Linked DNA regions of Homo sapiens. The protein of the gene in region 4 interacts with the protein of the main gene of each other region in a pairwise test. Each region holds a gene or a part of one and is shown on either strand. Other genes may lie near its edges. The genes, in order: MECP2, STK3, TRIM55, TRIM69, FKBP1B, ASNS and SPMIP2.

What was found.
Region 1: the proteins of TRIM69 (region 4) and MECP2 interact in binary tests that used the Homo sapiens proteins (3 or more experiments, as listed by UniProt).
Region 2: the proteins of TRIM69 (region 4) and STK3 interact in a two-hybrid assay, tested with the Homo sapiens proteins (one study listed by BioGRID).
Region 3: the proteins of TRIM69 (region 4) and TRIM55 interact in a two-hybrid assay, tested with the Homo sapiens proteins (one large-scale study listed by BioGRID and IntAct).
Region 5: the proteins of TRIM69 (region 4) and FKBP1B interact in binary tests that used the Homo sapiens proteins (3 or more experiments, as listed by UniProt).
Region 6: the proteins of TRIM69 (region 4) and ASNS interact in binary tests that used the Homo sapiens proteins (3 or more experiments, as listed by UniProt).
Region 7: the proteins of TRIM69 (region 4) and SPMIP2 interact in binary tests that used the Homo sapiens proteins (3 or more experiments, as listed by UniProt).

Annotation. Positions count from the first base shown.
Region 1 is NC_000023.11:154,031,693-154,036,235, forward strand, and holds part of MECP2 (methyl-CpG-binding protein 2), read right to left. Parts: exon of another isoform or gene 2,232-4,543; intron 866-2,231; coding exon 515-865; intron 1-514. UniProt on the Homo sapiens protein: Chromosomal protein that binds to methylated DNA. It can bind specifically to a single methyl-CpG pair. It is not influenced by sequences flanking the methyl-CpGs.
Region 2 is NC_000008.11:98,542,008-98,546,550, forward strand, and holds part of STK3 (serine/threonine-protein kinase 3), read right to left. Parts: intron 1-4,543. UniProt on the Homo sapiens protein: Stress-activated, pro-apoptotic kinase which, following caspase-cleavage, enters the nucleus and induces chromatin condensation followed by internucleosomal DNA fragmentation.
Region 3 is NC_000008.11:66,144,129-66,148,671, forward strand, and holds part of TRIM55 (tripartite motif-containing protein 55), read left to right. Parts: intron 1-4,543. UniProt on the Homo sapiens protein: E3 ubiquitin ligase that plays an important role in regulating cardiac development and contractility, muscle growth, metabolism, and fiber-type differentiation.
Region 4 is NC_000015.10:44,763,548-44,768,090, forward strand, and holds the end of TRIM69 (E3 ubiquitin-protein ligase TRIM69), read left to right. Parts: intron 1-3,683; coding exon 3,684-4,225; 3' UTR 4,226-4,280; downstream 4,281-4,543.
Region 5 is NC_000002.12:24,059,052-24,062,314, reverse strand, and holds part of FKBP1B (peptidyl-prolyl cis-trans isomerase FKBP1B), read right to left. Parts: intron 1,502-3,263; coding exon 1,389-1,501; intron 1-1,388. UniProt on the Homo sapiens protein: Has the potential to contribute to the immunosuppressive and toxic effects of FK506 and rapamycin. PPIases accelerate the folding of proteins. It catalyzes the cis-trans isomerization of proline imidic peptide bonds in oligopeptides.
Region 6 is NC_000007.14:97,869,443-97,874,713, forward strand, and holds the start of ASNS (asparagine synthetase [glutamine-hydrolyzing]), read right to left. Parts: upstream 2,967-5,271; 5' UTR 2,909-2,966; intron 2,724-2,908; exon of another isoform or gene 2,277-2,723; intron 372-2,276; 5' UTR 336-371; intron 1-335.
Region 7 is NC_000004.12:159,024,710-159,029,252, forward strand, and holds part of SPMIP2 (protein SPMIP2), read right to left. Parts: intron 2,016-4,543; exon of another isoform or gene 1,354-2,015; intron 1-1,353.

The DNA.
Region 1 (4,543 bases), on a different chromosome or scaffold from region 4:
TGTCAGGCTGAGGCCCATTCTGCTGGTTGGTGCCTGGGCCTGAGTCACCATCTAGAACATTCCCAAGTTTGAACTCAGGTACGGTGCTCAGTCTCTCCAGGAATCAGTTTCAACAAGATAATCCTTTGCTCACCCTTCTCATGGAATTAAATGAGGCTGTCTGCAAATGTCATTTGAAAACTGCTAACCTTTTTGGGATCATTTAAAAGGCAGAACTGAAACATGCTTCTTCACCCCTCTGAACCCCTAGCTCTGCAAGTTCCTCTGCTTCCGCAGCTATTCCATCCCCAGATAAAGACTTGAGGTGTGGAGAGGATAGAGGGCCTGCTACCTTGAGAACTTCCCACTCAGGGCAGCGACCTCTGTACACGGTCATTTCAAGCACACCTGGTCTCAGTGTTCATTGTTTATGTTCCCCCCGACCCCACCCTGGGCACATACATTTTCCTGCTCCATGAGGGATCCTTGTCCCTGCCCTCCCTGCCCTGTAGAGATAGGAGTTGCTCTTACTTACTTGATCAAATACACATCATACTTCCCAGCAGAGCGGCCAGATTTCCTTTGCTTAAGCTTCCGTGTCCAGCCTTCAGGCAGGGTGGGGTCATCATACATGGGTCCCCGGTCACGGATGATGGAGCGCCGCTGTTTGGGGGAGGCAGAAGCTTCCGGCACAGCCGGGGCGGAGCCTGACCCTTCTGATGTCTCTGCTTTGCCTGCCTCTGCGGGCTCAGCAGAGTGGTGGGCTGATGGCTGCACGGGCTCATGCTTGCCCTCTTTCTCTTCTTTCTTATCTTTCTTCACCTTTTTAAACTTGAGGGGTTTGTCCTTGAGGCCCTGGAGGTCCTGGTCTTCTGACTTTTCTTCCCTGAAGTGTTAAACAAGTATGTAAGTATCACAGAGAACATGCCAGTCTGCAGAACAAGTGAGCAGAGGCAGGCTTGGACCCCCACCACATGCAAGGCCCCAGGCCATCATACACTCAGATCTTGATGTCCTTCCCCAGGACAACAGAGACTCGGGCCAAGCTGGGACCCAAATATTTCTTTAGGAATTTGGGCTGTGGGTGGTGCTGGCCGGTGTGCCTGACCTGCACTGTGGCCACCCACAAGTCTCCTAGCACTGCAGGAGAATCAGAGCCCTTTCCTCTGAGCGGAAACACTGCGGCTCCTGAGCATACCACCCCAGCATGAGTCGCACTTCAAGGGACTCTGGGCTCGATGGCTGACAAGAGGCCGTCGACTGCTGGAAAGGGAGCCAAATGGGGGAGGGGTCTCCTTTGTGAAGGCCGGGCCTTGGGTGTGTTTTTGGTTTTCTAGAATGAGGCTCAATGAGGCACACAGTACAGTGTCATGGAAAGCACACACAGGTTTGGAGCCAGCCAACCTGCACTGAAATCCTTTGCCGCTTTCCAAACATGAACCCAGCAAATGACCTCAGCATTCTGTGCTTCAGTTTCCTTATCTTGACAACAGGTAACCCCATCTAGGCATCCTTACTGTGAGCATCACAGGAGAAAAGGCACAATGGCACTATATAAATATCAGCTAACTCAGGCCACAGGAAACTACCGCCTAGGGTCCTGGGGGTGATAAGACAAGTGGTCCCAGGTGGCGTGAGCCTCTAACACATGTTCCCTGATGAGGAATGGCCTCGGCCACAGCAGATGCGGAGGGAAGAGCAAGGAAAAAGGTGTGGTCCAGGCAGAGCCATACATCCCCTTCCTGCCGGTGGAGAAGAGCACCCTACCTATTCTAGTGTGGGAGGCTTCCCCGTTCTTTTCTGGTGACCGAAGCAGCTCCTTCTCTACACATCACTTTGGCCCGGTGGGGTCTCGTCAGAAATGGCCACCGTGAGGCCCCACACCCCAGCATCACTATCTGGCCATGATGCTCTAGTACTCTGTCGAGTATGCCACCGTGAAACCTCCTAGGACTCCAGAGCCTCTGCAACAACAGGGGCAGCTTGGAAAGAAGCAGCAGCCACCTGCGAGTCCCTTCGTTAGCAGTTCATTCTGGAAAAGAGCATGACTACTCCCACCCTCCGTGTTCTCAGCCCCACAACTCCCCTGTCCCATGTGGTTCACATCAGTGCTAGTCACCGCCTTGCGGCTGGTCTACCCCAAGAGACTTCCCCTCTTGTCTACACTGCACAGACTGTGCAATGAGGGCACCATGGCACTCACTGGCAAGCATCCTTAGGAAACCAGAACTCAAATGATGTAGGGAAGTTACCAAAGGCTGCTTAGTGCTGGGACTCAGAAGCTGCAAGGACGTATCTCTCCAGAACCATCAGGTCAGGTGTAGGGAGGCAAGAGATGTTCCAATCTAGTGACAAGGTCTTAGAGTGAGGGAATGTCTTGTCCCCACCATGACTCACCCCTGAGTTCCTCCCTATCCTGTATCTTCCTCCAGAAGTTTAGGGCCCAGAGTGTGGCTGCCAGAGTCACCTAGAGCCACTGCATACACAAAGGCATCCTACAACCCACAGAGCAGTCTTTCTTGCTGTAAAGAGGGGTCCCTAATCTGTCCCAGCACAGAGCTCGCCTTGTTTTGTTTTTTGTTTTTTTTTTGAGATGGAGTCTCGCTCTGTTGCCGATGGCATAATATCGGCTCATCGCAACCTCCGCCTGCCGGGTTCAAGTTATTCTCCTGCCTCAGCCTCCGGAGTAGCTGGGATCACAGGCGTGTGCTACCACGCCAGGCTAATTTTTGTATGTTTAGTGGAGACGGGGTTTCACCATGTTGGGCAGGCTGGTCTCGAACTCCTGACCTCAGGTGATCGACCCGCCTCAGCCTCCCAAAGTGCTGGGATTACAGGCGTGAGCCACCGTGCCCAGCCAGAGCTTCCTTTTCATGTCTCTGAGTCTTACAGCTCTCAATGGGAAATGACGAAGAACCCTGGAAAGCTAGGTGTGGCCTGTTGCCCACCAGAGATCAGCCTTTGAGAATGGACCCCTAGGCAGCTCCCCAGCTCCCCATAAAGGAGGGAGGGAAGGGGAGCCACCAGCAGAGTGGGCCAAGAAAGCAGACAGATGGGAATCGCTACTTCTACACAATCCATCATGGCACTGCCTAACGCCAGGGCTGCTCCCTAGAACCCGGACGGTCCTAATGTCAGAGAAAAACAGTGAACTAATGGGAAAGATCTGGCTTCTTCGAAACTCTCATTTGCATTTCCCAAATACCTTAATCACCATGAGGTCAAACTATAAACCTAAACGTGACGTAAGGAATGCCTTCTAGAAATCTATGCTAAAGAGACACCTCCAGAAATCTCAAAGAACATATGCATGATGTTATTTGCTACAACATTATTTTTACCAGCCAAAGGCTTCCAATACCCCCGATCCCTATCACCAGGGCACTTGCTGAATAAACTTATGGTGCGCCCACACACTGGAGTACTGTGCAGATCCAAAGGGACTAAACAAGAGCTCTAAGAACTGCGATGGAGTCATTTCCAGGATCCACTGTGAAGCAAAGGGAGCAAAGCGCAAACATATCTACTGCATTCTACCAAAGAAAGAAGGGGGGGTATTAAGGAAGGACACACCAGGAACTAATGAAATTGATTCCCTGCATGGGGTAGGGGGAAAAAGGTAAGGGTACAGGCACAGGAGTGAGGCCTAGCTGAACATGCCTCAGTGTAATTCTGACTTCTGAATCATGTAAATGTTTATATTACCCAAAATAAAATTCAAACTAAAAGTAACAAAACCTTATTACACTTAATGCAAATAAAAACAAATGAGTTCGGGCCAGGCATGGTGGCTTCAGCCTACGATCCCAGCACTTTGGGAGGCCGAGGCGGGTCGATCACCTGAGGTCAGGAGTATGAGGCTGCAGTGAGCCATGACTACATCACTGCACTCCAGCCTGAGTGACAGAGCAAGACCCTGTCTCTCTCTCTCTCTTTTTTTTTTTTTGAGACAGAGTCTTGCTAGAGTGCCATGGCGTGATCTTGGCTCACTGCAACCTCCGACTCCTGAGTTCAAGCCTTCTCCTGCCTCAGCTTCCCGAGTAGCTGGGATTACAGGTACCTGCCATCACGCCCGGCTAATTTTTGTATTTTTAGCAGAGACGGGGTTTCACCATGCTGGCCAGGTTGGTCTTGAATTCCTGACCTCAGGCGATCCACCCACCTTGGCTTCCCAAAGTGCCGGGATTACAGGCATGAGACACCACGCCTGGCCAAGACCCTGTCTCTTAAAAAAAAAAAAAAAGAAAAGAAAAAAGAAAAGAAACAAATTTAATTCTATATCAAATTGACAATATACCACAGAGAAAAGATTTATTTCAAATGACTTTTGACTACAGTGCTCTGCAAACCTGTAGTGGGACATATTCTAAGGCCAACAATAACACTCCAGGGGCAGTAAACACACTAGATTGGCTCCCAGGAGAGATATGTGATTCTGCTTCTGGGGCATCTTGTGCCAGAAAGCCCGGGGAGTGCAAGAGAAAAACAGGGAGGGCCCATGAGAGGCCTCTAGCAGTGGTCCAGGTGTGGCCCAGGGTGGGGGCAGTTGAGGATTTGGGGCTGG
Region 2 (4,543 bases), on a different chromosome or scaffold from region 4:
ACTTACTTGCTAGGAAATCTTGAACAGCATTCCCAAGTCTCAGTTTCCTTAGTGCTAAATGGTAGTGAAATGCTATTTTATAGGATCCTTGTGAGGAGTAAATAAGATAACATATACAAAATCCTAAGCACAGTGTTTGGCCTGTAGTAGGAGCTCAATTAGTAACAGCTATAACCTGAGAAATTCACCTTTTTCTCCATTTCCAAAAATAAAATAAAATAAAATGTAAATGTACTTTTATACTTCCATGACACTCTCCTCATTTTCTCAAAGAGATGTCAAATTTCACAAACAGTGGAAAACAGTTCTCTCATCTCAAGTCGTATCAATAGATATTATCAAACACACTCTCGGTCAGGAGATGCCAAGTGCGCTGAGTACTTCTCTAGCATTTGCTCATCTTGCCATTCAAACCCCTCTTATTCATGTTGATGCTACTCAGTTCATTTTGGAGATCATCATTCTCTATAGAAGCCCCTTTGACTAGCTTACTAAAAAAAAGAGAGATGGAGCAAGGTCTTGGAGGAGGCAGGGAAAGGTGGAGGCAAGAATTTGCCGTGGGAAGAACAGAGTTGCTCGATAGCTCAGCATCTCTGGTCCCAGGAAGATATGATTTTTATCACCGCATGGGAAGCAGGGCTGACAATGCCCAGGGCTTCCCGGATGCTCCCTCTTATCAAGTTGTTGGAAGGATAAATTAATAGGGTGGACAGATGAATATTATCCTTTATTGATTATCAACTATATTTAAAACACTGCTAGGCATGTTTTGAATTTACCTAATACACACACCTGCACATATACACACAACAGAGAGACAAATATTTATCACTGAAACTCAGACAGAATTAAGCAACACAATTACTAAATGATTTGGCTTCACATCCCATGCTCTTCACTATACCACATCATTTGTTCAGAAAACATTTCATGAACTCTTACCAAGTGCTAGGTATTGTATTAGGTATCAAAAATACAGTGGGAAATAAACAAAAGCACACGCTCACAATAAAGCATGACAGTGCTGTAAGAGTGAAAGCTTGGGGTGAGATGGGAGCCTATTAGAGGGGCACTTATTCCTAACCTGGGGTTGATAGAGGAAGCAACCTCTTAACTGAGCCTGAGTGAATGAATATGATTTAGCAAAAGAAGCATAAATCCCACAGGAGGATTTAGGCATTGCAAGTGGCCAAAGGTAAAAAAGCTCTGTAAGAGCTGAGAAGCTGGAAGAAGGATGAAGAGGGAATAGAAAGGTAAGTAGGAACCAGAGCATATACTGCTTCTTAACTGGTGTTGAGCTTTAGCCTATAAGCAATTGGTAGTCACTGGGAGGGCATAAGCAGAAGAGAAATGTGCTGAAATCTGTATGGTGGGGAGGGAATGAAGATTGGAGGCAGAGGATCAGTTTAGAAGCCTCACAAGTGAGAAACTATGAGGACTTGCACTAAAGAAATGCAAGCAGAGATCATGAGAAGAGAATAGGGATATTTAGGGGGCAGAACTGATGAGATGTTACTTCCATGAAGGGTGAAGGAAGAAACGGAAATTAAGAATGACTCAATTTTTCAACCTTATTCCAAAGACCACATTTAAAACACCTATACAGCTTCTCTAGGTACTTGCATGATAACATTTCACTTTTTTTCTGTAAAGTAGGGAGCAACGTCATCTACTGAAACTGAGATGGGAGGCAGGAAGAAGAGATCTAGTGAAGATCTAAACTAGCCACTCTGTAGAATGAGGAATTGCTGAACAGAGAAACACAGGCCTCCAGGAAAGTTGAGGGCCCAAATGGGGGAGAAGGTCTTGATCTGGCAGCCCTCATCTGTGCAGATGGAAGATTATCTCCAGCAGCACTCAATAGCCAGGGTAAAGATGCAGAGAAGATGAACACTGAGACTGGACCATATCAAAGTTTTCCAGGAGAGGCAGAAAAGACAAGACATTAGGGCAGTGGAGTTTAGAATATAAGAGAGTGGCAGAAGCAATGAAATATAGCCTCTAAGAGGAGTTTAGAACATAAGAGAGTGGCAGAAGCAATGAAATAATGAAATATAGCCTCTAAGAGGAGTTTAGAACATACGAGAGTGGCAGAAGCAACGAAATAATGAAATATAGCCTCTAAGCTGGATATAGAAGTGAAGGGAGGGTGTGCTAATAAAAAGAAAGCAGACTAGGAACTAGGGTCAGGGAACTAGAGGGCTCTCATGATAGCATTTCCCAAAATGTGTTTCTCAGATGCTTATTACACAGGATGTTAATCACTGATACGTTCCTCATTAAAAGCTTTTCATGGTCAAATAAGTGAAGGAAAGTTTGGGTAATGTAATTTTTAAACTGTTTCCTTCCTGTACTATTTGTATTTAATAAGTTAATAATATATACTGTAGTTCTCTAATAATTTATCTCTAGGATAAATATGCATTTCCCAAATAATTCTGATTACTGTATATTATTTATCTATATTTATCAGAGAATTTCACTGAATGGGTATCTTAAGGAACACATTTTCAGAGGGTCTGCTCTGTGAAATGAGAAGCAGGGATGGTAGAACACTTGAAAAGAAAGTATCTTACCAAGGCAGGAGGTTTACCTGAAAGTTCTCTTAGCTTCCAGAGCTATGTATCTTTAATTCTACTATAACACACACACACACACACACACACACACACACACACACACACACACAGCTTGACTCTGACTCTACTGTAATTAGTATTCATTCATGAAACCAATATTCCAAGAGCATGTACTATTATGTGGCAGAGGAGATTTATACAGCATTCTTACCAGGACAAACTTCGTGACTTATCTGGAGAAACAACAGATACACACATGAAAAATAAAAACCTGGCTGGAAAATATGGCTCTTCCTCAGATACCCATAAGACATAGTTTCCCTCCAGGGCAACTAGTGCTACCAATCTAGCCACAGCTCTGTAAGATCAGAAAGTTCCTCCATAAAAACAGAGCTAACTGAGTAGATCTGAGCTGAACAAACTAAAAAGCCCCAGTCTTTCTTTGCTGAAGCTACTACTCTCCCAGAGTCACCCATGATGAAATAATCTCTCCTACCCCATCAGTTTGATGACATAGATTCTTGACCTGGTCCTAATCTACTCCAGGATAATAAATCCTAAATTGATTTTCTTGAATGACAACCAACCTGCTTTTACCCAGTGTCAAGCATTCAGAATTCCAACTGGCACAGACTAGTATGGATAAAACATAATCCATAAGGAAGAAGTAGAGATCCACATGTAAATAATGGCTAGTGCCAGACTGTGAAGGATCTTGGTGACACAGCTGAAGCCTGGACATTCCATGGGGAATGAGGAGGCCTTAGGGATATCTGAATAGGAAGACTGGGAGCGGGAGGGTAAAAGTAATGCCATCATTGCTAAAAACAGGTTTAGAAAGTTATTCTTGGGACATGCCCATAGGGTCCACGTCCATTTTTTAAAAGGCAGATCAAATTTTAAAATACTTTTTGTCATTTTTCTCCACTTCCCTTCAAAGGGTCTGTGGGTAATTTTCCTTTCTAGAGGTAAGGAAAATAGGCCCATAATTTCTAGCTTCATGGTTAAAGGTATAAAAGAGTAAGTGTAAACATAATTTAAACTGACAAGGATGTTAAATCAGGCAACTCACTTGAAACTCCAATGGAAAAAGAGATGAAATTCTAAATCTTCAGTACACATTGTAGAGATTTTAGAAAACCAAAAATAATATACTGCTATCATCTTATTAGGGAACAAAAATGCTAAAGACACATTAGCAAATGTGGCTTTGACTGATGTGACATAAGCTGAGACCTCATACCAACTAATTTAAGAAGTTTTAAAGATTTAGATCACGAGAAAAACAAAACTACAATAATTATATGGTTTCAGAAAAAGTAAGTCTTCCCTCAATAACTTCTTCACATACTTTACTACTGCTATACTACAATATGACAATCCCTAGGGGTTATACTAACATCACTTGATTAGAATTTTGGAAACACTGAAGTCTCACATTACAGAATGATGTCTAACTTGTAAAAACAAAAAACACAGAAAGTTGGCTCATGGGATTTAAAATTTGCTGAGGTCCATAAAACAACTGCAGCTATAAAAACCACTTATCTGTTCAACTTCAAAATTGGTTTTCACTAAAATCTCTGTGACAAAAAGTCATACCTATACAATCAGTTATAACAAAATTATAACATGTATTGATTTTTGTGGATGTCAAATCTAAAAGTCACTATACAAAATGTCAGAAATCTGTGGTATAAAGTATGATGTCGGAAACATCATCATTAGTCTCTCTTCCTTGAAATATAATACACTGCAATCTAAATGAATTAGATTCTATAAAGACTCATTTTTCTTAACTATTATATATATGCTGATGTTCAACTATATGACTGCATGAAAAGTTGTTCATATAGTTTCATAAGGAGCTCAGTAACTCCCTAAAGACACAAAAAAGCACTCAATGATCTAATTGATCTGTTAAGAATCATAAAATTTGAGTTAAAAATTATATCAGCTTATGG
Region 3 (4,543 bases), on a different chromosome or scaffold from region 4:
GCAACAGTTCAACAATGGCTTTAGGTCAATGTTAAATGTTACCTACTCACTTCTAAGGAAACAACCAAATGACCATTTGATTTTTTTTCTTTACATCCAGAAATGTTGGCATTGGTTAGAAACAAATATCCCACCCATCATCATCTTACCATTTCAATATGGGAGGGATGATCTTCACTTTATAAAATCATCCCTTTTTGGTATATTGCATCCACACTGCATTCTCCCTAGAAATGGGATGAATTTTATTTTCATTAAAATATTATAGACAACTTTAATTTGGTTCTCCCAAGAAGCCAAGAAATATAACTGTCCTAGCAGACCCAGGAGGAAGGCTGTGCAGCAGCCAGAGGCTTTGCATCAGAGTATACCCGGAGACCAATACCTACTTCATTTATGGTGGAGGTATACTTCACTTGCTAAGCACACTCACACAGGTGCACACACAGAGGATGTAGGAAGCACAGACATCAAAAGGAAGAAAATGGAGACTATTTGAAAAGATAAACTCGAAAGCTCAAAAAGTGTATATCTTGATTGAATTACTGTCCAGAGAAGAGGGGAGGTGTATGGCTCCGAATTGGTCTTAAAGATACATACCTTTTTACTCAAGTAAATGAAAAAGTATGCTAAAAGCAAGGAGCAGTCTTTGAGATGAGGAAGTTTTTGTGGAGAAGAGACAAATATGGTTGCTATCATGCTTTTGTAGGTAACAACAGTCCTTTAAAGTGTTCTGTCTGCAGACGTTTTCACAATGCAAAAGTCCACATTTTTTCCTATTCCATTTTTCAGGCTGCTAGAAAGTCACTGCTGAAAGTGTTGCAGATTCACATTAACAAAGGCACAGTAGGTACTGAAATTCAGAGTCATCACTGTCAGTAGCTAGGTGGCCTCTGAGAACATTTTTTTTTCATGGCACATATCTGTTCCCTCATCAGCTTAGAGGGCAAATTGATAACCTGAGGTGTTTATTGTTCCCTGACTTTCACAGCACTTTGATGGTCTTGAAGCCAAGAAAGATTAGGGGACATCTAAGTTAGTCTCTTGTGTGTGGGTTCTACCTCAAAGAGTGTGAAAAAATAGGAGACTTCATTTCATGGAGTATTTCACATTTGAATATGACATTAGGTTAACCTGAACATTTTGAGTTAATTTCTAAAAGTCTGTAAGTTCCAATTTCGTAATTCCAAAGAAGAGGCATGTATTTTTGCCGTTTCAGAAACAGATTTATCTAACTCTTACCATTTTTTGCATAGAATTATATTAAAAGCTAATTAAACAAGAGAAAAAAGTTTTTTCCATTAGGAATTAGAAAATATAATGATTTTATATTTATCATTTATGATACTTTTTTTTGTTCATTATTCTCCAAAACAATGGAAAATTATGGCAGGTTATTAGATCATACAATGCCAGGTACAAAGTCAGTGGTTGGTGAATTTTGTTGAAAGAACTAGGAATATAATTCTGAAACAATTTAAGATGCCTTGCCTTTAAAAAATCTACCTTAAGCATAGTGAATTTGGGTTTTGTTTTTTTTTTCTCTTTTGGAGGTGGAGTCTCACTCTGTCACCCAGGCTGGAGGGCAATGGCGCGATCTTGGCACACTGCAGCCTCCACCTCCAGCCTTGGCCTCCCAAAGTGCTAGGATTACAGGTGTGAGCCACTGCACCTGGCCAGTACATTTGTTAAAAGGCATATATTCCATTTACAAGCACTTCATATAATTTTTTAAAGTTACTTAAAATATGGGCCCAGCTGGGTGTGGTGAGAGTAGCAATGACCCAGGAGTTCAAAGACCTTGACTGTAGGCCAGGCACCAATAATAAATGGTCGGATGGCCTTGAGAAAGTGACAGCTCTGCTGGGTTTCAGTTTCCACATGAGTGACATGATTGATTTGGAGCAGGTTACTTCTAATATTCCATGCAGCTTCAAAATTCCACAACTGAATAATTCAGGTTAAGGAATTTGTACCTAAATTTAATAGACACTGATCCAGTACCAATATATGCCAGGTAATATTATAAGCACTTTACAAAGTATTTAATGATATAATAATTTTAATAAAGCATAGACCGCATATGGGGTAGCATTTCCTGCACTATGAAGTATAAACAAATGATAGTAGTTTTACTAACATTCAATATAAGTTATTTAAAAAAACAGAATAGAAATAAAATAATGCTTGGAATTGCAAGTAATATAGGAATGAAATTAGTTATTCCATTTAAACTGCCAAAAAAAATTATATGGTCAAAATAAGTGATTTAATCTTTATTTGACTTGAGAGAGTACACTAGATTACACATGCTTCACATCTGTCTCATTGTAAATGACTTGGCTGCCATAAACTTGAATGTTCTCACATATTAAATCACATAGGAGAAAATTTTTGTGAATCAAAGACTTTCTACCTGTATTACATCTTAATATAATACTCATATTATAAATGTTTCAAGTGCACAACTCATTTGGGAGAAACAAGCTGGAAACCATTATATGATCACAGTAGAGCTTCTAAATATCAGAGAGGCTTATTTCATGTGTACAGTGGGCACCTGGTTGCCTGAAGGTTGGAACAAAAGATAATACAGTGAAAGAGAGTTTGATTGGAAAGCTACTAATAGGTTTCAGTTTCTAGGCCTGGTTGAACAGTCCGACTCTCAAGCTAAAGGGCTGGAAATGAGTGGAAATTTGTCAAGCCAGGCAATTTCCACATCTTGACATGCTGCATGGGCCCTTGTTCCATTACTTTCACAACTGCTAGGACTTCAAGCATTTTCATCCCCTCCTCAACCTCCTTTACTCCTATTCCTCCTTAAGGTCAAGTTCAAGTACTAATTCCTCTGAGAAACTCTTCCTGAGTCAACATTTCTGGCTCCCCTCAAAGTTCCTCCACCTACACAAAGGGTTGGACAAAGATTCCATAAATGCTTCTAAAGCATCTGGTATAAATCTCTAAAATATTTACATTATTCAGCCTACCATATTGAATTACATTATTGGTCTATAGTCTTTCTCAGTGAACTGTGAGCTCCTTGAGAATAGGAACTATGTTAATTCTTTTTTGGATCCCCAGAGTCTTGACACAAATGACATGCATTGTTTGTTAAATCCATGAATGAATGGGTGGATGACAGTGGTAAGGCATTTACTATTAAAATAGTTGGCACCACTGGATCTCCATGCATTATAATTTGGTTGGGAACTGTGATGAGAATTGACTGTTCCAAGGAAGGCAATGGAGTAAGGGATGTATTTCTTGCACATTTGCAGAGTATCTTCATAATCAACAATTTGGTTTAGGTCATTCTCCCTGACTCCATACTGAGAATAGTAGAGAAATTGAGAGGAAATGAAACACATTAAAAAAAAAATCTATTCCGCCAGGATTGGTGGCTCACGCCTGTAATCCCAGCACTTTGGGAGGCCGAGGCGGGTGGATCATGAGGTCAGGAGTTTGAGATCAGCCTGACCAATATGGTGAAACTCCTTCTTTACTAAAAATACAAAAATTAGCCGGGCAAGGTGGCATGTGCCTGTAATCCCAGCTACTCAGGAGCCTGAGGCAGGAGAATCACTTGAACCTGGGAGGTGGAGCTTGCAGTGAGCCGAGATCGCGCCATTGCACTCCAGCGTGGGTGACAGAGCATGACTCCATCTCAAAAAAAAAAAAAAAAAAAAAAACCACAAAATCTATTCAACAGATATTTAGTGAACAGCTACTATCCAAGGTGCTCTGTGTCCTAGGCAGACCCAGATTCTACCCTCAAAAAAAATATACTTTGGATATTTAAGAAATTCACATAAAGGAAGAAAGCAATACATGACATAAAAGACTTCAATGTTTACCAAAATGAAAGAATATGTAATAAAGGGTATAGAATGGTCAGAGATGTCAGAAATAAATTTGCTGGATTCCCAAGAAGCTCTCACTGTGCGGGAGAGCTAGGTTAGATCACTATGGCTCACAACCTGCTCTCAGCTATAAAGGTCCTGGACCCAGAGATGGTCAAGTCCAAGGAGATTGGCATACATGCACACCAAGCTTACCAGGGATTGAAAAACCAAAAGGCCAATGACTAGATGAACTGGATAATTAATTATGATTTAAAGATGGGCCCAGACTAAAGGGATCTGGATGGTACTGGAGATACTTCAGCCACACAACACAAATGTGCAAGCCAGACTTCCAACACAGCCTTTCTCTCCAAGAGCATAGACCAGATACAGTATTACCCATTCTTAGGCAGTATTGGATAAATAGAGGATCTGGTAGATACAGATATATGCTATCAATGGTAACTATTATGAGATTTCAGAAAGTTAAAAGTTGCATTCAGCCATAAACATCAAGGGACACTTTATGGAAGAAGTGGTAGTCTGACAATGTCTTTGAAATTGCATAGAGTTTGCAGTGGTGACTTGGGGAAGAACACTGTAGACAGAAGGGAAAGCATGAACAAAGAAAGTGAGTGGTTTATTTTTGCTGGAATTCAGGGTATACAATGGAGGATAGTAGAATGTTATGAGAGAAATTG
Region 4 (4,543 bases):
ATGCTCCCTCTCCCTGAGGGTAGTGTATTAATGTAAATTATTTGAAATTTTGCTGCCCTGGAGATTTGTCTCTTCTGGTTGGTAATTTTTTACTGGATGCCAAATATGATGAATTTCATATTGTTTGTACTGATGAATTCATATTGGTGAATTTTGTATTTGCTGGATTTTGTTGTAGTTCTTTCAGTTCTATTGAATTTAACTCTGGCATGCAGTTAACATGGTATGACATCATTTTGTTCCTTCTGAGGCTTAAATAAAGCCTAGTTAGAGTGGCTCAAGAGCAGCCTTTAATCTAGGGCTAACTTAGCCCATTTTCTAAAGTAATATACCCTTCTGATTACCCTACCTGACGTTGACATATTACGACATTTTTCCATTCTGGTTGGCAAGATTGAAAATTATTCCCAGCCTTGTGTGAGCTCCAGAAATTGTTCAGTCTATTGATTTCTGGAGGTTCTTTCTCTGGCCTTGACGAGTTTCACTGCATGCATGTGCAGATTAGTACTCAGCCACAGCCTTGAGAGAATCCCTTTGTAGATGTTTGTAAGTTTCTGTGAAGTTCCCTCCTCTGTGTTACTCTGCTTAGCAAATTGTAGCTGCCTTGGTATGACAGAGTTTTTCTTCCTGTATACTTTGCTCTGTAAAGCCAAACTTCACTTCTAGCAATCTTTTAAAATGCAAACTGATTTTTAAATTTTTGGTATAATTTTACATCAAGAAAACCAAATGAGATTTATTTAATATATGACTATTTATTAATAATGTATTATTTATCCATATACTCTCCCTCTATACAGAGTGGGAAATTGTTTTTCTATGGTAACTGTGGTCAGACCTTTGTAAAATATATTCCATACTTTTTATTTCTAAGTCTTTGCTTATTTTGTAGATCCATATATTCTCCTTTTCTGCCAGCCTTATAAATTAGGCTGTTGCTTTAGAGCAGGAGCTGGCACTTTTCTGTAAAGGTTTGAAGAGTAAATATTTTAGGCCTTGCAGGTGTATGGTCTTTGTTGCTGCTACTTAACTCTGCTCTTGTAGTGAAAAAGAAGCTACAGACAACATATAAATGAATGGTCATAAATGTGCTCCAATAAAACTTTACTTACAAAGTAGGCAGTGGGTCAGATTTGACCTGTTGGTTGTAGTTTGCCTACTCTAGCTTAGGGAATTTTTCAATTTAAAATATTTGCATGAACAAATGCCCAAATAATGTGGAGTGAACCATATGGGGAAAAAGCATTCTAGGACAAGGGAAGAAATTATAAGGACCCTGAAGTAGGAATGATCTTCATTATGTTCAAGGAACTGCCAAAAGACAAGGGTGGATGAATCAAAGTAAATGAGGGAAAGTGTGGTAGGAGATGAAGTAGAGAGGTAGGTAAATCATGTGGCTCTTTTTTCCTCTATAAGGACTCTGGATTTTATCTCAGATGTGATGGTAAACATAAGAGTATGCTGAGCAGGGAAATGGCTTGATCTCATTCATGATATGTGTAGAATAGGGTGCAGATGGGCAAGAGAGGAAACAGAAGAGTAAAAAGCTATTGCAGTAGTTCCAGGCCAGTGATATTTCTGGAAGTAGTCAGAAGTGTTTGGGCACAAGATATATTTTGAAGGTGGAGCTGACAGAACTTTTCGTTATATGAACGTGGCATGAGAAGGAAAGAGAGGACAAAAAGCTGACTCATGGGAATCTTCAGAGCCAGTGCAGGCTGAACTAGCTAGAGATGTGTCAGAGGCTTAGCAAAGAGAGCAGAGTGGGATTCCAAAACGTTGCTAAAAAGTCTTTATGGTACCTCCAAAGAAAACCCAGTCCTCACATCAGAAAGATTAACAACCCAAAGTGAATGGGGATATGTAAGGGGATAGGGATTTAGCCTATATGGAAAAATTCAAGATTCTTAATTCTTCAAAGCCTCTTGTTGGAAAGAGAAGTCCCTGGGATAATGGAAAAGACTCAGGCTTTTCTGAGAAGATAGAGTTAGACTAGAGTTCATGACTAGCCTGGCCAACATGGTGAAATCCTGTCTCTACTAAAATTACAAAAAATATCAGCTGAGCGTGGTGGTGCATGCCTGTAATCCTAGCTACTCAGGAGGCTGAAGCAGGAGAATTGCTTGAACCCAGGAGGCGGAGGTTGCAGTGAGCCGAGGTTGTGCCACTGCACTCCAGCCTGGGGGACAGAGCAAGAATCTATCTCAAAAAAAACAAAACAAAACAAACAAACAAACAAAAAAAAAACAGAGAGAGAGAAACTAGATTGATTCTGCTTCCAAGGATAAATAAATCCAATAACAACAAATGCATGCATACATGTATCTGTGTCCATGGTGTGCACACACATAGCTATTAGGTCTCCTTTATCAAATTTCATGTCAAGGTCCAATGATCTCACATCTGGAATTTGTGTCATCCTCTTGCTGGTCAGCTTTCAACCTCTCTTCATTTAGTTTAGATATTCTTTTTTATACTGCTGCCCTTTGAATTGTCTAAACCAATGCTTGTAAAATTATCTGTGATGAAGGGCCAATCAAAAAAATCTCAATCTGTCATGGACTGATACTTTTGTAGAATACAATATAAATTACTTGAAAAAGTAAAATTAAAAAAAGCAAAGATTACAAAGTACAAGCCCAATTTTGTAATTATTAGATTCAACTGACATAAAATTACTGTCAATTTGCTATGAAAGTTTTTAAAAGTTTACTGTTAATTTCTATACTATCTTTGTCCGAGACTGTTAACCACATGGTATGTGGACCACATTATGAGTAGCAATGACATAAACCACTCTAGATCTCAAAAATCTCATTATCTGTTAAACCAAAATAAACCTCTCACTATTGTCCTCTAAACTCTGTACCAGTTAGTTCAGTCTTGCCTGTGTCTAACAGGCAAGCTCTTGTGTTCTCTTCCACACAGGGGACTGTTTTTAATCCATTTCTTTCTTTCCGTTTATTCAAAACATCCTAAATACATCTCATGTATATACAACTGAATACTTACCTTCCTCAGAAAGCTTTCCTAGAACATCCTTACCTAATTTTTACCCCTTTGGCATTTGTATTTTCTTATATTTATTAGTATAGGTTTATATTATTTGTATTGTTTCCTTTAGTAGAGCATAAATTACTTCTGAGTAAACCCTGATTTTTACCCTAAATATAAAAATGTCTAGAATATAGTAACATGGATACCCAAACAATAAAAAGCATGTAAGTGGCCAGGTGCGGTGGCTCATGCCTGTAATCTCAGCACTTTGAGAGGCCTAGGCAGGTGGGTTGCTTGGGGCCAGGAGTTCAAGGCCAGTCTGGCCAACATGGCGAAACCCTGTCTCTACTAAAAAATTACAAAGATTAGCCAGGTGTGGTGGCACACACCTGTAATCCCAGCTATTTGGGGGGCTGAGGCACGAGAATTGCTTGAACCCAGGAAGCGGAGGTTGCAGTGAGCCGAGATCGCACCACTGCACTCCAGCCCTGGGCAACCTTGTCTGCCTCAAAAAAAAAAAAAAAAAAAAAAAAAAAAAAAGCATATAAGTAATTGCTTGCCTGTCTAAGAGTCTATGTGTATGGGGAGATAAAGTACTATTGAATATGAAATACTATCTTTTACTGTGGGAATTTGTGTTTACCCCCCTTTCTCCCATGCTCTGCTTTCTTTTATTTTCTTACTAGGCCTGTCTCCACTAACTCTGGACCCTAAAACAGCTCACCCAAATCTGGTGCTCTCCAAAAGCCAAACCAGCGTCTGGCATGGTGACATTAAGAAGATAATGCCTGATGATCCTGAGAGGTTTGACTCAAGTGTGGCTGTACTGGGCTCAAGAGGCTTCACCTCTGGAAAGTGGTACTGGGAAGTAGAAGTAGCAAAGAAGACAAAATGGACAGTTGGAGTTGTCAGAGAATCCATCATTCGGAAGGGCAGCTGTCCTCTAACTCCTGAGCAAGGATTCTGGCTTTTAAGACTAAGGAACCAAACTGATCTAAAGGCTCTGGATTTGCCTTCTTTCAGTCTGACACTGACTAACAACCTCGACAAGGTGGGCATATACCTGGATTATGAAGGAGGACAGTTGTCCTTCTACAATGCTAAAACCATGACTCACATTTACACCTTCAGTAACACTTTCATGGAGAAACTTTATCCCTACTTCTGCCCCTGCCTTAATGATGGTGGAGAGAATAAAGAACCATTGCACATCTTACATCCACAGTAATGAGTCATAATATTATACAAATTCAGAGTGTTATTAAAGAGGTATTGAAATATTTTACCAGTCTCACTGGATTCTCTTCTCAATTTTTGGGGAACTATGGAATAATGAAAAGAGGATGCGCAAATCAAATTCCATTCTTTCAGTATCCTAAATGGATTTCACTGGAGGCTTTCAAGGTATCATTCTTCTCTGGGGTCTTTTATGACACAGGAGCCACTCTCATGAGAGTGATCATCATGCTACTGTTACTGGAGCAAACTGCAACTTGAGTTTGTGATGTTTGGGAACCCTTTTCAAATATGCCCAGAAATGATCATG
Region 5 (3,263 bases), on a different chromosome or scaffold from region 4:
TGTAATCTCAGCTACTCGGGAGGCTGGGGCAGGAAAATTGCTTGAACCTGGGAGGAGGAGGTTGCAGTGAGCTGAGATTGTGCCACTGCACTCTAGCCTGGGCAACAGAGTGAGACTACGTCTCAAAATAAATAAATAAATAAAAAACAAAAAACAGGCCGGGCACGGTGGCTCGCACCACTTTGGGAGGCTGAGGCGGGCAGATCACGAGGTCAGGAGACCGAGACCATCTTGGCTAACAACGGTGAAACCCCGTCTCTACTAAAAATACAAAAAAATTAGCCGGCCGTGGTGGCGGGCGCCTGTAGTCCCAGCTACTAGGGAGGCTGAGGCAGAAGAATGGCGTGAACCCAGGACGCGGAGCTTGCAGTGAGCCAAGATTGCGCCACTGCAGTCCAGCCTTGGTGACAGAGTGATACTCTTTCTAAAAAAAAACACCAAAAACAAGACCTATCGTAAGGGAGCATCATAGGACTTCACAGACAGACCAAGAAAGAACAGCTTGAACCAGGGCTCATCACAGCAGTTGTTGAGAACCCACTCAGCATTAGTGGGACAATTGGTGAAATTTAAATCTACTTTTGAATTTTGAATAATCAAAAATTTGAATAAGTAAGTAATTTGTATCAGTGTGAATGTCCTGGTTTTGATAATTGTACTATGGTTATGCAAGAAGGGGAAGCTGGATAGAATATAGAAGAACTCTGTACTATTTCTTTAATATTTTTGTAATTCTGAAATTCTTTTCAAAAAAGCGAAAAAACGAAAAATTTTCTTGGCCTACTCCACCCCAACTCTTCCACTACCTCAGTCCCAGGCAACTGGTAGACCTCAGCTAGTTTATTTTTTTGTTTTGTTTTTTTGAGACAGTCTCACTCCATCGCCTGGGCTGGAGTACAGTGGCACAATCTCTGCTCACTGCAACCTTCACCTCCCCGGTTCAAGTAATTCTCCTGTCGCAGCCTCCCAAGTAGCTGGGATTACAGGCATGCACCACCACGCCTGTATTTTCAGCAGGGACGGGGTTACACCATGTTGGTGAGGCTAGTCTTGAACTCCTGGCCTCAACTGATCCACCCCATTCGGCCTCCCAAAGTGCTGGGATTACAGGTGTGAGCCACCGTGCCTGGCTCTCTCAGCTAGTTCTGAGCAAGCCTAGGGGGATGTGCTTGGGATGAGAGCCCCCAGGGACACAAAAGAGGTATGCTGGCAAGGAGAGGGGTGGGGACGCAAAGCCAGGAGGGGACACCAGATGGCGTTGCCATGCCCTGGCTGTAGAGTCAAAGCAGTAGTGGTCTGTGAGTGGGTGAAGGTGGAGGTGGAGGGCAGAGTGCTGATCCCAGATCCCCAACTCCCCAGATCCCCTTTAATGCGAATCCTCATCCTACCTGGGCTGCACCCTCTTCAAAACCTTTGATGACTTCCTGTTTGCCAATTCTGAACTTGAAAGGTTTGTTTCTGTCTCTGGATGAATCAAACTTCTTCCCATTTTGGAGCATTCCTGTCAAAGCAAGAATCGGGTGCAATAGAGCTGTGGTCATGAGTAAACTCCCAATTCAGATTCCACATGTCTAAAATGGAATGCCTTTTCTGCACACACCTGCTCCTCTTCCGATCCTCCCCATCCATCCTGTTGCCCAAGCAGGAAATCTGGACACTTCCTTCTGCCTCACCCCCACATACTGCCTATCACTAAGTCCTCCATATCTTTGGAATCCACCTATTTTCTTCATTTCTATTTTTATTTATTTATTTATTTATTTGAGACAGAATCTCAATTTGTCACCCAGGCTGGAGTGCAGTGGCACAATCTCGGCTCACTGCAACCTCCATCTCCTGGGTTCAATCGATTCTTCTGCCTCAGCCTCCCAGGTAGCTGGCATTACAGGCGCCCACCACCACACTCAGCTGATTTTTGTATTTTTAGTAGAAACAGGGTTTTGCCATATTGGCTAGGCTGGTCTTGAACTCCTGAACTGCAGGTGATCCACCCACCTTGGCCTCCCAAAGTGCTGGGATTACAAGCATGAGCCACTGTGCCTGGCCTTTTCTTTGTTTCTATTACCACGACCAAGTCACCAGCTTATCTCACCTGTACACAGGAACAACCTCCTAACTGGTCTTTTTGATCCTCTTTTACTCGCCTCCATTTCATTGTCCACTTGGCATCCAGACTGATTTTTTTTTTTCTTTAAACACAAATCTGATTCTATTACTCCCCTGCTCAAAATACTTCAATAGCTCCCCAGAGCAGAATCCAAATGCCTACCTTGCATACAGGCACTTCACAATCCGGCTCTGGCCTGCTTATAACCCTCTCTGTTCTCCCCTTCCTTCCCTTCCCTCTGTGTCCTTTTCAGGTCATACCTTTCTCAAATTCCTCTGCACTTTTCAACTTTTTTTTTTTTTTTTTTTTTTTTGAGTCGGAGTCTCCCTCTGTTGCCCAGGCTGGAGTGCAGTGGTGTGATCTCGGTTCACTGCAACCTCCGCCTCCCGGGTTCAAGGGATTCTCCTGCCTCAGCTTCCTGAGTAGCTGGGACTACAGGTACCTGCCACTATGCCTGCTAATTTTTTTATATTTTTAGTAGAGATGGGGTTTTGCTATGTTGGCCAGGCTGGTCTCGAACTCCTGACCTCAGGTGATCTGCCCACCTCAGCCTCCCAAAGTGCTGGGATTACAGGTGTGAGCTATCATGCCCAGCCAGACTTTTCAACTTTTTTATGCCACTTCCTCCACCTAAAGTTCTGTTTTCCCAGCTATTCCAGCCTCAGGTTGAGTCCTCGCATAAGGTTCCTAAGGTTTCCTAAGTTTCCCCCAAAAGGGAAAACCCAAAGGTTACATTATCCCCTACTGTAGGGAACAGTGTAAGGTGACCTAGCTGGTCAGAGGTGGCCTCCAGACTCTGTACTAAGAGGGCTGTTTGAAACCAGAACCCCCCCCCAGGTGCTGGTCCAGCAGTTCTGGTTCCCCCAGCCTCTGCTTCAGAAGCCTTGTCATCCTGATGTCCACATGTCATCTCAGTCCAGCAGCCCAAGGCCCAACAGCTATTCTCAATTCTTCTGTGACTCTGACTCAAAGATCAGACCTTCTGTAAATGATGCAGTTCCACGACTGCTCCCGGCAGTCCCTGGACCACCACAAAAGGCCATTTGGGACTAGAAAAAGACCTTGCTTGTACATCCAGAGACTGGGTTTTGACTTCACTCTGGCTCTAACTCATTGTGTGAGACTGGGCAAATCACTTCCTCTCCCAGGGCCTCAG
Region 6 (5,271 bases), on a different chromosome or scaffold from region 4:
CCTTAGGATTTAGTGGTTGGCTAGAGCTGACAGCGTCCATGCCACATCTGTCTCTGCATTCTAAGTTTGCTTCCAAGATACAGATACAAATGCAGGCTGGCTCCAACCTAGCCAGAGATCCTAGCCCCACTCTCACCATCCCAAAATCCCTCAAAGATCCAACAGACTTTCCAGATTACTAGAGTCTCCTCTCAGGTTCCCTTGACAGTTAAATGCCCTCTTTATCTGAACTAGCTGCAGGTACCATATAATGGGTACAACAGAAAATCATACTGCTGTAAGTGTAAAAGATACGCAGCTCTTTCAAGCATTTCACTATATTACATCTAGGTTACCTTCAAGTGATTTATTCAGATGTGATTGAAGAAAATCTAAAGGGAAAAAAAAAACAATTTAATTTGATATCAGATATCCTGGCTTTATAACAAATAAAACATTTCAAGTTAATAGAAGATACAAAATATTCACTATCAAAATGTCCTCACTGACAAAAATGTTCTCAAATATTTCTGTCTCAAAGTTGCATTGTTCAGTAAGGAAGCAAAGTAGGTGAGACATATACACCAACAACATCCCTAATAAAAAACTTAGCTCATCCCTATAAGCCCGGAAGCAAATAAATCACCCTTACATACGTTAATTACTTTCCAATTTCAAATTCTCAACTGTGAAATAAAGGGCTGTTTTATTTGGCTGCTGCCAGCTCAAAATGACACATTGCACCATGTGTGGCATTTGGGCCCTGTTTGGCAGTGATGACTGCCTTTCTGTTCAGTGTCTGAGTGCTACGAAGATTGTACACAGAGGTCCAGATACATTCCGTTTTGAGAATGTCAATGGATACACCAAAAACAAGATGTTTTAATTAAAACATCTCTAACTTGAAAAATAACTATTTTGGTGTTTTTTTTAAAAAAACTGCGAATTGCAGCAAATGCCCAAATAGTTTGGGATAAACACCCTAAGGAAAAAATATACATTCAAGTTGCATAAGTCACTTTGAGCTATTCTTTGATGATATTTCATTTATATCTAAAAGAACCAAAGGTTTAGCTGGCTTTTCCGGAAAACCAGAACCAAATAATATATGGTTAGAATGAAAATCATCTCAAGCAATTTGGAAATGAAGTACCACATGTCCTATGCTGTCTCTTCCATGCACTTGACCAAATAGCCCAAATAGCCTATAACAAATTATTTGAGATTTACTGGAAAAATTCCATAAGATTTAAATGAGATGACTACTAATAAGCCATCTGCCTTTGACTCTATATCAATTTAAAACGGGTTAGGAAAGTGCTTTGAAAATCAAGTATGGTCATCAGGGAATCAGTTACCTAAGTCTTCTTAACGCTGCTTAGTGAATCCCTGTATTAATCCTGCTATAATAAATACATTCTAACCACTAAACTGGAGGGGAAAAAGGGAGAACAAAGAGGCATGTAAAGTACACTTATTTTTTCTAGTAGGAAAAAGCCAATTAAAACTATAACCTATTATTTTTATTGGAATCAGTCTTATAGGAGGGCAAAGTTCCTACTGCCGCTACCTGTTCTCAATATTTTTCTTATTTCTTCCTAAACTTCTAGAACAGTGCTGTCCAATAAATATATATGTAAGCCACATATGTAATTTTAAATATACTAGTAGCCCCATTAAAAGAAAAAGGTGAAATTAATTTTAAATAAACTTAACTCAGTATGTCCCAAATAGTAACATTTTAACATATATGTAATCAATATAAAATATTATCGAGCAGATATTTTACACTGTTCTTCCTACTCCAACGACAAAATCCAGTGTATTTAACACAATACATCTCAGTTAGGACTAGCCAGCACTTCAAGTGCTCAACAGTTACAGGTGGCTAGCGCCTACCGAACTGGACATGGCAGTTTCAGTGCATTTAATTTCTATTCCACTTAGTGCTACTTACAACTTCACCCTCTCCCTTTACTTTTATATTAAGATCTCAGTAAGTAACCAACTACAGACAGGTTCAAGCCCTACTTTACCTCTAATTACTCTTACAGCAATGCTATGAATCATGATTTAAAATTTAAAAAAAAAAACTGCTGTTAAATTATTAGTCAAGCGCCCAGGGCAATGGACAGTAAAGAAATAATGTAGGCCACGGGCCGAGATGAAAACTGTCCTTTTTATTTAAAGCTATAACAATCATCTGAAGCCAGCCCTGCAAAATGACAGCCATTGAAAAAGGCATGCTAGTTCTTTTGCCTTTTTCTGTACTTGGTCGCCTGTGTCCCTAAACAGACCTCTTCTCGGCAGGGTTTGCTCAGCAAGTCACTTGATGAGTCTTGCAGTCTACAGAGACAGGTGGGGACTGGTGGGGATGGCGGGGTGAGAGGGGAGGAGGAGGGTGAGCGGTCCAGGTGAGGAGGGGGGCAGTTGAAGGTGAAAGCAGACACCGAGACGGTGATAAGGCCGCAGTCTCTTCCTAGATCAGGACCACGCGACACCTGACTGCGCCCTGGCCACGAGCACGATCCGACCCGTCCGCCGCAGGGACCCGGACCGCGAAAATGTCCACAGGCTTCGACGCCACATAGTAAAAAAAAGTACACATATAACATTTACAGGGGCTCAAACTGCCGCTGCCTCCTCTCCGGAGCGGTCCGGCCTGCCGGCCGCGGTTCCCTCTCGATGCTTCAGGGAACCAGGACAGAAAGGTCCTTCCGCTAGCTGTCAGGTGCGTAACAATCGCTAGGCGTCCGCCCCGCCCTCCCTACCGCAGGAGCCGCAGCATCAGCAGGCGCCCGCGAACCGCGTCTGCCGGGTGCCAGGCTGAAGACCGCATCCTCCACCCCTTCCTTCCGGAGCAGCCCCAGGGCACGCGAGGAGGATGCTGGCGCGGGGCGCAGGGCACGGGGCGCAGGACCCGGCTCACCTGGGCGTAAGCAGGTCAGGGTGATGTGGCGGGCTGAGGCCAGGGATGTGGACAGCTTGACGGGCGGCGAGGCCGCTGGCGCTTATACCGACCTGGCTCCTGTAACGCGTGCGGGAAGTTTCATCATGCCTGCGAGGACCAACCAGCGCGCACAGGGGCGGGGCCGCGGGGTGTCCGGGGCGGAGCAGGACTAAGTGGGGCGGCGGAAGGGCGCAAGGAGGAGCTCTTTTGTTTCCAGCGCCTTGCGTCTCAGTGCGCCTGTTTAAGGATAGCCTCAGAGCTCCGCCCAGGCTACCTGCTGTTCTGACAATTAGGGAGGCTTCTGAACTTGGTTTGTTCTTCGGGAAATCATCACCGTTTTTTTGTTGCACTGCCGTCTGATTTATTATGCAGTGCAGAGAAAAGCTTGTCCTAAGAAACTGATGCGTGAGGCCTAAAATGTCCTTATAAGATCTATTAATAAATCGGGGCCAGGAGCGGTGGCTCACGCCTGTAATCCCAACACTTTGGGAAGCCAAGGCAAGAGGATCACTTGAAACCAGGAGTTCAAGACCAGCCTGGGAAACACAGCGAGATCACATCTCTATAAAAATTGGTGGCACACCATGGTAGTCCCAGCAACTCAGGAGGCTGAGGCAGAAGGATAGTTTGAGCCCAGGCGTTTGAGGCTGAGGTGAGCTCAACTCCAGCCTGGGCGACAAAGGGAGACCCCCATCTCTAAAACAATAAAATCTAAATCTAATTGATACATGAAGCCAAAATACATCAGTGGTCCTTAAACATTTTAAGTACAAAGATTCCTTTTAGAATCTCAAAAAGGATTTTGTCAACTTGCCTCCACAAGATGATTATGTGCTTTTAAGTATCTCTTTGATGAAGAAAAGACATCACGATTTTTAAAAAGTATCATAACACTCTTAAATCGTATTTTACTAATTACATCAGCACCGAAATAAATTGAGAAATAGTAAAATTATATGTGCACGACCTACTAAGATCAGACTACAGTCAATGCTTGGAGAGCATGCAGGTTTGATATCCCCATACAACGCATTCCTGACTAAATCAAAAACGTCAACAATTTAAAATCCCTAAGAACAGAAGATGGAGTAGTCGCTTAGTAGTTACAGGCAAGAGCAAAGATGAGAGATGACTTGTTCTAAGGTTCATTGTTGCTGGAAAGTTTTCAGTATCAAACAGACTTTGCTGTATCCTAATTGACGTACTTTAAACCTGAGAGCAATGTGGGAAAGTAGGTCTTCTATCTACATTTTACAAATGAAAAAATAAGACTCAGAAAAGTTGAGGGATTTATCCAAACACAGCTTCACAACAGTAGAGAACTGAGTCATAATCTGTGTAAACCCAGAGCCCATTTCCCGTAGCATCTTGCCTATGTAGTGAAAGACAGGTTCCCCTGCTTGGTGTGTTACCTAGTGTGCTTCCTTGTGCTGCGTATCTCCTGCTTGTCCGTCCAGAGCTCTACACTTCTCCACCTCACTTTCTATCCTGGCTCCCTTGCCCTCCTCTTTCAGGGAGAGTGTGCAAAGGCAGACATTTCAAGGAGATGCAAAAGGTGAAATTAAAATTGCTAATGAAGTTTTGGCACCATTGTCATTGATAACATCTTATCAGGAGACAGGGTTTTGAGATCAACCGGTCTGACCAAAGTTTATTAGGTGGGAATTTTCTCTTCCTAATAAGCCTGGGAGTGCTATGGGAGACTGGAGTTTATTTCACCTCTGCAGTCTCGACCATAAGAGACAGGTACGCCCCGGGGGGCCAGTTTAGAGACCTACCCCTAGGTGCGCATTCTCTTTCTCAGGGACGTTCCATGCTGAGAAAAGGAATTCAGCGATATTTCTCCCATTTGCTTTTGAAAGAAGAGAAATATGGTTCTGTTCTGCCTGGCTCACCGGCGGTCAGAGTTTAAGGTTATCTCTCTTATTCCCTGAACAATTGCTGTTATCCTGTTCTTTTTTCAGGGTGCCCACATTTCATATTGCTCAAACACACATGCTGTATAATTTGTGTACTTAACGCAATTATTACAGGTCCTGAGACGATATACATCCTTCTCGGCTGACAGGATTAAGAGATTAAAGTAATGACAGGCATAGGAAATCACAAGGGTATTGATTAGGGAAGTGATAAGTTTAGTCCATGAAATCTTTACAATTTATGTTTAGAGATTGCAGTGAAGGCAGGCATAAGAAATTACAAAAGTATTAATTTGGGGAACTAATAAATGTCCATAAAATCTTCATAATCCACGTTCTTCTGTCATGGCTTCAGCTGGTCCCTCCGTTTGGGGTCCCTGACTTCCCGCAACACAGCACAGTGCCTGGCACAAAAGAGTTGCT
Region 7 (4,543 bases), on a different chromosome or scaffold from region 4:
ACTTGGCCATTCTACTATAAAATATTTTTAATGGAACTTGTTTTTCTTTAATGTTATTTAGATCAGGTTTACAAGAAAATCCAAAAAGCCAATGTTTGTCAGGATAATGATTAGCATCACAAATAACTTCATCTTCTAGGCCCAGTAGCCATTAGTTTACTTATATTGCTTGTGACCTACCTCAGGTGACGATATGCATATACATATATAACACATGTGAAGCCTACCACATGCCAGACACTAAGTACTCTGTACATATTACCCCATTAAATACCCTATGAAGTAGATATTATTATGGCCATTTTACAGATGGTGTAACTGAGACACAGAAGGGTAAGTATCTTGTCCAAGGTCACAACAATAAGTAAGTGGTGGAGCCAGAATAGTTTAGATCCTTGCTACTCAAAATGTGGTCTGGGAACCAGCAGGGTGGGCATCACCTGGGATCTTGATGGAAATGCCGACTCTCAAGCCCACCCCAGTCTTGCTCTGTCGCACAGGCTGGAGTGCAGTGGCATGATCTTGGCTCACTGCAACCTCTATCCCCTGGGTTCAAGCAATTCTCCTGCTTCAGCCTTCCAAGTAGCTGGGATTACAGACGTGAACCACCACACCTGGCTAATTTTTATATTTTTAGCAGAGACGAGGTTTCACCATGTTAGCCAGGCTGGTCTCGAGCTACTGAGCTCAAGTGATCCCCCCACCTCGGCCTCCCAAACTGCTGGGATTACAGGAGTGAGCCAGCACACCCACCCCAAAATCTGCATTTTAACAAGCCTCTCCAGGAGAATAATTTCCACATTAAAGTTTTAAAACCATTTGCTTAAATAATCTTAGATTATTTCTTCCTGTATTTTAAAAACCTGCTTATGGCTTCAGACTTTGGGAAATAAGGTGTACTTGGTTGGCTTATTAAGAAAAAAAAAGAATTTTAAGATGGTTTTGTGTCCTTTCCCCAGCACCAATCTCCCCCAGATAATCAACTTCTCAAGAGAAAAAAACAGTTTAAAAAAATTATTAAATTCATATTATTTACAGGTGCTTTCATTTCATTAAACCATGATAGAAAACCTTATAAAAACCTTATATCCCCCAAATTACAGATTTTTTAAAAACTGAGTTCAAAAGAGTTAAGGGGAAAGCCGACATTGGTGTCTAAGTTTACAGTTTTTGCTTCTTGAAGCAGGATCTTCATGCTTACACCTATTTCCTAGTAGGTAGCACAGGGCCTGGCACACAGTAAACAATCAACTCATCTTGCATTTAATAATTTTTTCACATCCTGTTTCAACAACAGAAACTTCTTTTTGCTTAATCAAGAGCATTTCATCCTGATTTAAAGAAGTGATATTCACAGTGCGCTGCCCATGCCGACCTTGCTAAGCTTGCTCCACACACCCTCCTATGCCCACCATGACCACTGTTCAGCAGATGGAAGATGATGCCTAGTGGACAGCAAAGGCCTTGATGAATACGTGAAGGAACTAGGAGTGGGAATAGCTTTGTGAAAAATGGGCACAATGGCCAAGCCAGAGTGTATCATCATTTGTGATGACAAAAACCTCACCATAAAAACTCAGAGCACTTAGAAAACAGCACAGTTTTCTCGTACCCTGGGAGAGAAGTTTGAAGAAACTACAGCTCATAGCAAAAAAACTCAGACTCTCTACAACTTTACAGATGGATCATTGGTTCAGCATCAGGAGTGGGATGGGAAGAAAAGCACAATAACAAGAAAATTGAAAGATGGGAAATTCATGGTAGACTGTGTCATGAACAATGTCACCTGTTCTCAGATCTATAAAAAAGTAGAATAAAAATTTCATCATCACTTTGGACAGGAAATAGCTATGAAAATCAACAAGCTCAGTTCAATGGGCAAATCTCCATACTGCTTCTTTTTTTTCATTACTGTGTTCAATTATCTTTATCACAAACATTTTACATGCAGCTGTTTCAGTATCAGATTAATTAGGATCATCCCTTTGGTTAATAAATAAATGTGTTTGTGCTAAAAAATAAAAAATAAAAAAATTAAGAAGTGATATTAACATAACCTACAAAGGATCAACTTTGGAAAATTAAATAAAGCCATGGAAAGGCAAATAAATCCTCCTCCCTTCCATCTTAGCTTATGCAGTAATTATTTATATACATATATTTATATTTATATATTTATATTTATGCATATATAAAACAAAACCAAAAAACTTGAAGTTAAGACAAAGCTTTTCCTTAGAAGTCCTCTTCTAAGGGGTTGGTTCAGGTGCTTTTCAAAGGGATAGCAGCAACTGATTTTTTTTTTTCTGCAAATTACACTGTGTTGAGTTAGGTGACCAACAATTTAAGGTAGGATTGATTTGGAGTTGCTGTCACCTATAGATAAGGCTTTCATGTAACACTTATAGTTTTGTAAATGTAATAATATGTCTTATGAAAAGAACAGTGTTTGATGGAGGACAATGAATAAGGTCTCCCACTTTTGCTATTATGATAGCAACGCCTAATATCTAATGTCCTTATCAAATAAATCACTGCAACTGGATATAATTAAGCTAACTAGATGTTTGGCAATTTTGTTTTCAATAAATGGCCCATTATATTCTATCAGAAGATCATTTCCAACTATCTTAGCTTTTAATTTATTATTTTTGAGTAGACTGAAGAATCATGGTAAGGACATATGTATATTGTCTACAATATATCTTAAAGTAATAGAACAAATTTTGATTCAGGGCAAACTGCATGCTATGACAACAGAATAAAAGGCAGGTAAAAATAAAAATAGACAAATAAAATGCAGTTTAGTCAACCCAATGTTTCAGTACCATTAAAATGTGTAAGCTTTTGTCATGAATTAGTTTTTAAAAATCTAAAAGAGTTGTCTTGTGGATTATAGTGCTGGGACTTAAACTGCATTTGCAGTAGGACTATTTTATTATTTCTTCAAACAGGAAACCACTGGCAATTCAGTGTGAAGTCATTTTCTATTTTTAAAATAATTGAATCTGAGACATAACTATTAGTATGACAGTTTCACAGAGCAAAAAATAAGATGAATAAGTGGGTCTGAAATGCTGGCTAATGGAGCAATACATTTCAAAATTACATATACATTTATGTGCTTCTCCGACCACTTACAGTTTCATTCATCATATCGTTTTTTGGCCATTTCCTAGAGAGTATTTCCAATTCTAATGTATTTCTAACAGAAATTTCATGCTGTGATCACTCCTTTGTAAGGTAGAGTTCTGTAATATTTCTGGTTTACATGAGCAGACTTTCTAGTAGGTATATGATGGCTGACTAAATATATTAATACTTTTATTTAGTCAGTAATCTGGATGTAAGGCACATAAATACCCCATATAAACAGGGAGCAGGCAGAAGCTTCCATCCTTCTTACAAGGCTGTGTGGCCTTCAGCAAGTCACTTAACTTACCTGAACCCTGAGTATTCCCATCTGAAAAAATAGGTTAAATTAGATTATCTGTTATAGTGCCTTTTTAATTTTATGTCTTATATTAACTATTTCTTAACTATATTTAATTTGAGCCAAGTAGGAATTAATGAAGAAAAATCTGAATTAAAGAATGTATTTTTAAAGAAATGTAATTTTTAAGTATTTTTTTTTCCTTCGAGATAGGGCCTTGCTCTGTTGGCCAGGCTGGAGTGCAGTAGTGTGATCACAGCTCACTGCAGCCTCGACCTCCCAGGCCCAAGCTATCCTCTGGCTTAGCCTTCTAAGTAGCTAGGATCACAGGTGTGCACCACCACACTCGGCTGATTTTTAGAATTTTTTGTAGAGATGAACTCTCTCTGTGTTGCCCAGGCTGGTCTCAAACTCCTGGGCTCAAGCAATCCTCCCACCTCTTCCTTCCAAAATGCTAGGATTATAGGTGTGTGCCACCGCATTCAGCCCAAGTTTTAAACTTTAAAATTGCATAGGACCTGGAACTGGGTAAACAAATTAATGTCATTTGTATGTAAACAGATGTTTTAAAAATATATAACCATGCTCTAAAGTAGTTTTAAATTTTCTTCCTAATTTTGTTTATAAGGTTTTTATAGTAAAATCTTTGTAATACAAAAATAACATTTTCTAGGCAGGTGCGGTGGCTCACACCTGTAACCCAGCACTTTGGGAGGTGAAGGCTGGTGGATCACTTGAGCTCAGGAGTTCGAGACCAGCCTGGCCAACATGGCAAAACCCCATCTCTACTAAAAATACAAAAATAAGCTGGGCGTGGTGGCGCACACCTGAAATCTCAGCTACTCGAGAGGCTAAGGCAGGAGAATCGCTTGAATCCAGGAGGCAGAGACTGCAGTGAGCTGAGATCGTGCCACTGCACTCCAGCCTGGGCAACAGAGCAAGACTCTGTCTCAAAAAAACAAACAAACATTATTTATAAAATCTCCTCACTATGTCATTACAGAACTTAGCAAATTGGTAGTAAAACTTCTGTGGAAGAATAGCCAGCAGATAAATGTTTTAAAAGTACAGATGGTTAGCTTGCCCTATTAGATTAAAACTCACAGTTAT